Regions from separate parts of the Homo sapiens genome. Here region 2 is linked to region 1. Evidence: fine-mapped expression QTL. A gene starts in region 1. The other region holds a variant in brackets. All regions are shown on one strand. Distances are from middle to middle.

Region 1 (5,000 bases):
TATTCTGGGTCAAATTATTCTTTTTTTTTTTTTTTTTTTTTGAGACAGGGTGTAGTTCTGTCGCCCAGGCTGGAGTGCAGTGGCAACTACATGGGATTACAGATGAGGTCTCACTACCTTGCCCAGGCTGGTCTCGAACTCCTTGGCTCAAGGGGTCCTCCTGCTCGGCCTCCCAGAGTGCTTGGATTACAGGCATGAGCCACCCCACCTCGCCCAGATTATTTTTAAACTGGAGTCTTCAGGTCCCCAGGGTCAAGAGATATACACTTGCCCGTTTGGGAATTCTATAAAAATGTTTTAGTTTAGTTTTGTGTTTCATTTCAGTAATTGCTTAAAAACAATATTTTCCGACTTATTAAATTAAAACTTCTTTGGCAGTGATAATTCATAACCATAAAGATATTTTCCTGAAGTAGGATTTTAATTTCTTTTTTTTTTTTTTTTTTTTGAGACGGAGTCTTGCTCTGTCGCCCAGGCTGGAGTGCAGTGGCACAACCTTGGCTCACTGCAAGCTCCGCCTCCCGGGTCCATGCCATTCTCCTGCCTCAGCCTCCCGAGTAGCTGTCTACAGGGGCCCGCCGCCACCACGCCCGGCTAATTTTTTGTATTTTTAGTAGAGACGGGTTTCACCGCGTTAGCCAGGATGGTCTTGATCTCCTGACCTCGTGACCCGCCCGTCTCGACCTCCCAAAGTGCTGGGATTACAGGCGTGAGCCACAGCGCCCGGCGGATTTTAATTTCTTAAAAGCTTTTTTATTGTCGTAAAATACATGTAACATAAAATATGCCATTTTAACCACTTTAAGTGTATACTTCAGTGGCATTAAGTACATTTACAGTGTTCTTTAGACTTTGATTTCTTACATCAGTATTTCTTACAGTGAAATTTTCAAAAGTATTTGCCAAGTTTCAAAAGAACTTTTTTCCTTTAAAAACGGTTTGTATACCACTCAAGACTATGAATCACTATTCAAGGCAATAAATTCTTCTTACAATATAGAATTTTTCTCTTGATAAATTGAGTATTCTTTCTTTAGATAATGGGAATAATACACACCCTTATGGTTTTTCCCCTTTTTAAAACCTGGAAATGAAGAAAAAAATTCGGTGTTTGTGTGACCATTTTCCCTGTTACTCATATAATTATTTGCCCATCTATTTCTTATCTTTCTATAATTACAGATTTCTCTTTTTTACATGGTTTGTGTTGTACCTTGCTTCAAATTCTTTTTTTTTTTTTTTTTTTTTGAGGTGGAGTCTTGCTCTGTCGCTCAGGCTGGAGTGCAGTGGCGCGACCTCGACTCACTGCAACCTTCGCCTCCCCGGTTCAAGGGGTTCTCCTGCATCAGCCTCCCAAGGATTCCCGGCTAATTTTCGTTATTTTTACTAGAGACGGGGTTTCACCATGTTGCCCAGGCTGGTCTGGAACTGCAGAGCTCAGGTGATGCACCCACCTCGGTTTCCCAAAGTGTTGGGATTACAGGCATGAGCCACCGCGCCCGGCCAAATTCTTTTTAGGAATTAGGTACTACATTGAGTTTTAAATGCACTCAGAAAATTCTCAAAGTAATAAATTATAGACTAAATAAATATAGCGGAATTCAGTCTAAATTATAGGAACTCCTTTTTTGATAACTAATATTTTTAAAGTACTCACTATGTGCTACGGCACTGTGCTAATCACTTTACTGTGATTTATCTAGTAATACCGTATGATGTAGGTACTATTATCACCCCACTCTAAGGAGTTCAAAGAAATAAAGAAACCTCCACAGTGTCATGAAGTAGCCCCGCTAGGACTCAGGCCTGGCTGAATCCAAAGCTCAGGCTTCTAAGCATAACGTGTACTGCTGCTTCTCAGGCTGCACATTCTATTTTACATTATTGGTAGTTTCTCTCTGGCGTTCTTTGTGGGAATGTTCACTGCCCCCGCCCCGCCCCGAAGTGGAACCCTGTCTTCTAACAAACTTTTCGCTGCTCCACCGTCTCCTGTCATGTTCCGCCTCTCAATGGAGTCCCAGCCCACACTCCGATTCTGGTCCCTGAACAGAGCCCCTTCCCCTCACACCATGGCCCCCTAGCAGAGCCTGGTCTCCTCAGATCCTCTTCTCCCAGCAGGGCCCCAACTCCTCACTCCGACGATTCCCCCAGAGTTCCGTTCCCTCAGATCCTGCTTTTCCAGCAAAGCTGCGATTCCTGTACCCCAGCAGAGAGCAATACCCCGTCGGCAAACTTCCACAGAGACATCTTACCGAGGTCCCAGCCCAGCCCCTAATTAAGGGCACACCTCTACCTTTCCCCTTCCCAACCTTCTCCCACAACTGTGCTTTCCCCCGCCCTATTCCCTTTTTCTGTTTATTAATTCTCCTCAACCTCTCCACCATCTCGTGGCCCAGTTTCAGGATTCCCCCGCAAACTCACCCACCGCACTGTCTCCTCAAAGTTGCGTTCCCAAACGGCGCAGTGCTCTGCCCGCACTTACGCTCCCAGCGCTGCTTCGGGATCTGCGCTCCCCAACTGCCCTCCGGGAATACGCCCTGCAGTTGAACAGCGCCCGAGGCCCCGCCCCCTCTGCGTCCATTGGCCATTGTTCTCGAGAAGTCCCGCCCCTCCCGCTTCCAGCCCGCCTCCCCGCCCCGCTTCCCTTGTTTTCATTCCCCCTGTCACACGAGGCAGTGGCAAGCCCGAAGGGGAGGAGAGAAGGGGGCGGAAAGAGGGCGGAAAGTGAAAGGCGCCGAGGGCCGCTCTGTCTCCCGTCTGACTCGGTTCTCGACTGCTCCGGGCCGCCGATGTATTGTGGGATCGCGGAGCCGTCCCTGAGACGCTGGGATCCGCAGAGGAGCCCACTTGAGAGCGCCTCCTGTCGTCTGTAAGGTTGCCTTGCCATCCCTCGGCACCACAACTTCCCCCGCCCCCCCATCGCCTCCTCCTCCATCCTCCAGTTCAAAATGGCGACGGCGGCGGCAGCGGCGGCGGTGATGGCTCCTCCGGGCTGCCCGGGTTCGTGCCCCAACTTCGCCGTAGTCTGCTCCTTCTTGGAGCGCTACGGGCCGCTGCTAGACCTGCCTGAGTTGCCGTTCCCTGAGCTGGAGCGGGTGCTGCAGGCGCCGCCGCCGGACGTCGGCAACGGAGAAGGTAAGCGAGGGGCCCGAACGCCCGGCGGGAAGCGGCCCTGGCGCTCTGCTACTCTCCGCTCTTCACAGGCGCCCCGGTTCTTCGCGGCTCGGGCCTCCGCGGCTCTGTCTTCCCCCTGGGACGCAACTCCGCCGGGCTGGTCTTCTCCGCCCAGCCCCCGGGGTCTTGGGCAGTGGGGAGGCGGGGCGGAGGCCCCCTAGGGCCACTCGGCCGGGCGGGGAGCTGAGGTGGAGGCGTTGCGGGCTAGGTGTGGGCTGGAGGCGGGGAGGGGTCATTGTGCCGGTCGGCAGCCCCGGGGACTGCTTCTCCGCGGCGGAGGGCGGCCCCCCACCCCGTCTCCCCCTTGGCGGCGGGGGAAGGGGAGCGCAGGTTCCGGCCAGCTTTGCGCTTTTCTCCTCCTCCCCACCCTTACTCCCTCCCCTCCTCCCACCAGTCTTCCCGACCATCTCGGGGAAGGCTGGGCTCGGCTGCTCCGGACACCTCCTTATCTCCCTTCACCTGGGTGGGCGGGGGCCAGCGGACACTCAACTCTCCCTCCCTCTGTTGGGAACTCCCCTGAGAGATTTGTCCCTTTTCCCTTCCCCTCGAGGGCTGCTTTAACCCCTAAAACTCCTTCCTTGAAGTGGGGAGGTCTGCTCCTCCCCCACGGGAGGGGGTTCTTCTCCATTCTCGGTAGGGGGGCGAAGTCGGTTCAGCTCCACTGTGGAGAGGAGAGGGTTAATTCCTCCTCCATAGTTCTCCTTCCTCTCCCCACCTCCCCCAAAATAATAGGCGAGCATCTCCCCACTTTTCCAATCCCTTCCCCCTTCATCTTGGCAGCCGGGCTTAGGCGAAGAAGTCGTCTCCCTCCCATTTGCACGGTAGGGTGGGGTGGTTAGTATGTAAGCTGGAGGAGGGGCTCTGACGGAGGGGGAAACAGTTGAAGAAGGTGCTTGTTGCTCATGTTTCTCTCTCTGGTGCCGCTGGTCTATTATTGGTGTTCGCAAGTGGTGCTCCTTCCACATAAGGCCACCGCGCGGGTGCAGGGCGCATGCTCTGCCCGGCCCCATTGAAACTTCCTGCTGCTGCTGCTGGTTCTTTTGCTGGAGCATCTCAGCGCTGCGCCTGCTGCCTCCAGCCTTCACACTGAGTGCTTATACTCACCCCCATTTATTCCCGATCCCTGCCTCTCCTTTTCTGGCACTTTTCTTTCCTCAGAGAAGGCTTTTTTGTTATACTCTGAGCATTGCCTTTATCTGGAAACAGCCCTTGGCTGGAGAAGAAACGTTTTCCAAATAGGTCTCTTTTTTTGTCCATATTAGCTGGCCAAAGTGGATTGGTTATTGTACAAGACAGATAGCTGTTTCCTTTCCAAGAAAGCAGGGTCGCTCTTCTATTCTCTATGTAAATGAAGAAGTTTCTGTTAACTGAATTTATTTGCATTGCTAGGAAGCGCCAAGTATGAAGTTCTTCAGAATATTACCTATAAAGAATCTGTATGATGTTATGGCTACCGAAGACTCAAATTAATACAGCAGTTATAATATAAGCCTAGTAATCTGTTCTTACCTGTCCACATTCCCTCTACCTGTAACAAACTGGCTTACAAAAGGCTAATTTAAAAAATAGTACAAAATAGGAGGGTGACTAATTACATTATATAAAGGCTTCTCACAGAATTTGTTTAAAAATTAAGCTCCCATTGTAGTAATTTCATTATCAAATTGTATTTACATTCTTTTTTATATTTTTTATTTTTATTTGTTTTTTGAGACGGAGTCTCACTCTGTTGCCCAGGCAGGAATGCAGTGGCAGGATCTGGGCTCACTGCTACCTCCGCCTCCCAGGTTCAAGCGATTCTCCTGCCCCAGCCTCCCGAGTAGCTG
Region 2 (5,261 bases), 32 kb before region 1:
CCCAAAGTGCTGGGATTACAGGGATGAGCCACTGCACTTGGCTGGTGGAAGAAATTTTTAAGCAGCAAAACACTCAAGACATGGTCTGGCTGCCTCTAGCAGCCTATGCTCATATTCTTGAGCAAAAAAAAAAAAAAAAAGACATAAAACTGGAACTTACATTTAAAAGGGAAGCAGATTATAAAGGTTTGAAAAATTTGCAGCCTGGTCATGTGGCATAAAAGAAAAAAAAGGCCAGGCGTGGTGGCTCACACCTGTAATCCCAGCACTTTGGGAGGCCAAGACGGGTGGATCATGAGGTTAGGAGATCGCGACCATCCTGGCTAACACGGTGACACCCCGTCTCTACTAAAAATACAAAAAAAAAGAAAAAGTTACCTGGGTGTGGTGGCAGGCACCTGTAGTCCCAGCTACTTGGGAGGCTGAGGCAGGAGAATGGCATGAACCTGGGAGGTGGAGGTTGCAGTGAGCCGAGATCGCGCCACTGCACTCCAGCCTGGGCAACAGAGTGAGACTCTGTCTCAAAACAAAAAAAGAAAAAAACAAAACTTTTTCAGGAGAGGAATTCAAGCCAGCTGTAGAAATTTGCATATGTAAAGAGGAGCCAAATATTCATAACCAAGATAATGGAGAAAATTCCTGGAAGGAATTTCAGAGACCTTCACAGTAGCTCCTCCCATCACAGGCCTGGAGGCCTAGGAGGAAATAATGGTTTTGTGGGACAGGTACAAGGCCTCACTGCTCTGTGCAGCCTCAGGTCATAGCACCCTGCATCACGGCCACTCCAGCTCTAGCTATGGTTAAAAGGGGCCAAGGTACAGTTCAGGCTGATGCTTCAGAGGGTGCAAGCCATAGGCCTTGGTGGCTTCCATGAGGTGTTAAGCCAGTGGGTGCACAGAGTGTGACAATTGAGGCTTGGGAGCCTCTGCCTAGTTTTTAGAGGATGTATGGAAATGCCTGATGTCCAGGCAGAAGTCTGCTGGGGGTGCGTAGCCCTCATGGAAAACCTCTACAATAGCAGTATGGAGGGCAAATGTGGGGTTGGAGCCCCTACACAGAGTCCCCACTGGGACAGTGGTTAATGGAGGTGTGAGAAGAGGGCCACCATCCTCCAGACATGAGAATGGTAGATCCACCAACGGCTTGCACCATGCACCTGGAAAACCCGCAGGCACTCAATGCCAGCCCACGAAAGCAGCCACAGGGGTTGCACCCTGCAGAGCCACAGAGGCAGAGCTGCCCAAAGCCTTGGGAACCCACCCCTTGCATCAGTGTTACCTGGATGTGAGACATGGAGCCAAAGGATATTATTTTGGAGTTTTAAGTTTTAATTACTGCCCTGCTGGGTTTCAGACTTGCATGGGCCTGTAGCTTCTTTGTTTTGGATAATTTCTCACTTTTGGAATGGAAGTATTTAGCCAATGCCTATAACCCCATTGTATCTTGGAAGTAACTAACTGTTTTTGATCTTATAGGCTCATAGGCAGAAGAGACTTGCCTTGTATGAGATGAGACTTTGGACTGTGGACTTTTCAGTTAATGCTGGAATGTGTTAAGAATTTGGAGGATAGCCGGGCACGGTGGCTCACGCCTGTAATCCCAGCACTTTGGGAGGCTGAGACGGGTGGATCATGAGGTCAGGAGATCGAGCCAATCCTGGCTAACACGATGAAACCCCGTCTCTACTACAAATACAAAAAAAATTAGCTGGGTGTGGTGGCGGGCGCCTGTAGTCCCAGCTACTCAGGAGGCTGAGGCAGGAGAATGGTGTGAACCTGGGAGGTGGAGGTTGCAGTGAGCCAAGATGGCACCACTGCACTCCAGCCTGGGCAACGGAGCGAGAGTCTGTCTCAAAAAAAAAAAAAAAGAATTTGGAGGACTGTTGGGAAGGCATGGTTGTATTTATTTGTTTATTTTTTTGAGACGGAGTCTCACTCTGTCACTCAGGCTGGAGTACAGTGGTGCAATCTCAGCTCACTGCCACCTCCACCTCCTGGGTTCAAGCAATTCTCCTGCCTCAGCCTACCAAGTAGCTGGGATTACAGGGGTGCACCACCATGCCCAGCTAATTTTTATATTTTTAGTAGAGACAGGGTTTCATCATGTTGGCCAGGCTGGTCTTGAACTCCTCACCTGAAGCAATCCATCCACTTTGGCCTCCCAAAGTGCTGGGATTACAGGGGTGAGCCACTGCCTGGCATGGCTGTAATTTGAAATGTGAGAAGGACATGAGATTTGGGAGGGGCCAGATGCAGAATGATATGGTTTGAATTTGTGTCCCTGACCAAATCTCATATC[G/A]AATTATAATCCCCAGTGTTGGAGAAGGGGCCTGGTGTGAGGCCACTAGATCATGGGGCCAATATCCCCCTTGCTGTTCTCGTGATAGTGAGTGAATTCTCATGAGTTCTGGTTGTTTAAAAGTATATAGCACCTCCCCACTCTCCTGCCTCCTGCTCTGGCCATGTAAGACATGCCAGCTTCCTCTTTGCCTTCTGCCATGATTGTAAGTTTCCTGAGGCCTCCCTAGCAATGCTTCCTGTACAGCCTATGGAAACCTGAGCCAATGAAACCTCTTTTCTTTAGAAACTAACCAGTCTCAGGTAGTTCTTTATAGCAATGCAAGAATGGACTAATACAAATACTGTTCACTTTTACTAACAAATTTAAACATTTCTACATTTTAAAATTGGCCTTTTCATAAATTGTTAGTAATACTAAAATACGGTACAACCCCCAAAAAGGGGAATTTGGCAATATCTAACAAATCTACATTTACATTTACTCTTTAAGCACAATCTCAGTTCTAAAAATTTACCCTGGATATACACTTTCAACAATACAAAAAAAAATGTACATGGTTATTCAATGTAGTATTGTTTATAGTACTAAAATATTGAAAGCAATCGAGTACCCATCCCTTAGGACTAAAGTGAATAAACAATATTACATTCACAAAGTTGGTTACTATACAGTGGTAAAAAAGAAAAAGACATATCTCTATGAACTGATATCATGATTTTCTGTATATATTAAGTGAACAGAATATAAAGAAGTAAGGCATGCTACCTTTTGCGTATGGAAAATGGGAAAAAAAGAAAAAAAATTATTTATATATGTATTTTTGTATTTGCTTATTTTTTCCAGAAAAATACAAAAAAGGATAAACCGGAAACTAATACAAAATAATTACCTACATGGAGTGAGGTGGGAATGTGATGGAAGAGATAGGGAGGTGAATAAGACTTTCTAAGTGTATCTATGATATGGTTTGGATTTGTGTCCCTGCGCAAATCTCATGTTGAATTGTAATCCCCAGTGTTGGAGGAGGGACCTGATGGGAGGTGACTGGATCATGGATGTGGATATCTCTCTTGCTGTTCTGGTGATAGTGAACAGCAAGTGACTGTCATAGTTTGAAGTTTGAATTCTGAATCATGTAAATATTTTACATGATTCAGAAAGTTAAAATCAAGACAGACAGGAAATGGGAGGCATCTAAAATTGTATGCCAACAGAAACAAATAAACCAAATTCCGTATGTCAAATTGACAACATTAAAAATGATCATTAATTTCAGTGACTTTTTCTTTCTTTTTCTTTGAACTTCTTCTTCTTCTTCTTTTTTTTTTTTTTTTTGAGACAGTGTCTCATTCTGTTGGCCAGGCTGGAGTGAAGCTCACTGCAGCCTTGACCTCCTGGGCACAAGTGATCCTCCCATCTCGTCCCTCGTCCTCCCAAAGTGCTGGGATTACAGATGTGAGCCACTATGGCTGCCCACAACTACTTCCAAATTATTTAGTAAAAATAATTATGAGAAGGAGAGAAGAGGGCCACAGAGGACTAGATAAAGCAAATGTGGCAGAATGTTAACAACTAGTGAATCTGAATTGATGGTATGCAACTGTTTATTCTATTTCTTTTATAATTTGTTGGATCACAGTTTGAAAATATTCAAATTCAAGAAGTTCAACAGAGGCCTTTCTTACTTTGCTATAAAGAAATACCTGAGATGGTAATTTATAAACAAAAGAGGTTTAATTGCTTCACAGTTCTGCAGGCTGTACAAGCATGATACCAGCATCTGCTTGACTTCTGAGGAGGCCTTAGGGAGCTTTTACCCATGGCAGAACGTGAAGTGGGAGTAGGCATGTCATATGATGAAAGCAGGAGCAAGGTTGGGGGAGGTACCACACACTTTTAAATAACCAGATCTCTTGACAACTCACTCACTATCACCAAGACAGCACTAAGTTATTCATGAGGGAACTGCCCACATGACCCAATTACCTCCCACCAAGCCCCACCTCCAACATTGGGGATTACATTTCAACAAAAGATTTGGGTGGGGACAAATATCCAACTATATCAGCCTTCCACAACAACCAGCTTTAGAAGGTGAATAGGAAAACAAAAGCAAAAGCAAACAAAAACACAAGGAACAGCTAGGAACAGCTCATCAATCTTTCCTTAAGAAGAACTGTCTTGAGCAGAAGAAACTCTAGCCTGGTCAATTGTACAATTCTCTGAGAATCAACAAAAGTTATAGAGAACATTCTTGGGACACTGGGGAAATCTGAAGACAGACTGTATATTAGATATTATTGTATCGGCCGGGCGCAGTGGCTCACGCCTGTAATCCCAGCACTTTGGGAGGCCGAGGCAGGTGGATCACGAGGTCAGGAGTTCAAGACCAGCCTGGCCAAGATGGTGAAACCCTGTCTCTACTAAAAATACAAAAATTAGCCGGGCGTGGTGGCATGTGCCTATAATCCCTGCTACTCAGGAGGATGAGGCAGATAATTGCTTGACCCCAGGAGGTGGAGGTTACAGTGAGCCGAGATCGTGCCACTGCACTCCAGCCTGGGCCACAGAGCGAGACTCCATCTCAAAAAAAAAAAAAAAAAAAAGATATTATTGTATCAATGATAATATCCTTGTTTTTGACAATAGAATTGTAGTTATAGAGGAGAATATTCATGTCCTTAGGAGAGAAATACTGAAATGTCGTATCTGTGATTTATTGTCAAATGACAGGGGGACAAAGTGTGAGTGTATGTGTGTGTGTGTGTGTGTGTATGTGTGTGTATGTGTGTGTGTGTTTAGAGTGAGAAAAGAAACAAACATGGTAAAATGTTAACAACTTGAGGATTTAGGTAAAGGATATATGGAAATGTATTATATTATTCACATAACTATTCTGTAGGTTTAACATTTTTCAAAATAAAAAGTTGGGGTAAACATTTCCATAGTTCCTTTAGTTT

What was found. PIP is the estimated chance that this variant, and not a neighbour inherited with it, causes the effect. A credible set is the group of variants that fine-mapping cannot tell apart.
Region 2: its variant is the best candidate, but not a certain one, in a credible set for the expression of AAMDC in whole blood (INTERVAL, PIP 0.67).

Annotation. Positions count from the first base shown.
Region 1 is chr11:77,818,663-77,823,662 of GRCh38, reverse strand. AAMDC (adipogenesis associated Mth938 domain containing) reads right to left here and starts at 2,519. Exons shown (of 4, transcript NM_024684.4): 1 at 2,422-2,519. It overlaps RSF1 (remodeling and spacing factor 1), which reads left to right and starts at 2,941. Exons shown (of 16, transcript NM_016578.4): 1 at 2,941-3,135. The coding sequence starts at 2,949. RefSeq lists silencers at 2,482-2,641, 3,232-3,321, 3,462-3,551 and enhancers at 2,742-2,881, 2,892-3,061, 2,614-3,586, 4,182-4,291, 3,587-4,560.
Region 2 is chr11:77,850,600-77,855,860 of GRCh38, reverse strand. The region is part of intron 2 of AAMDC (adipogenesis associated Mth938 domain containing); the gene reads right to left. It also overlaps a transcript of RSF1 not described here. Among named protein-coding and RNA genes, the nearest start is that of AAMDC, 32 kb to the right of the region's middle. The variant G/A (reference allele first, on the strand shown) is at 2,299.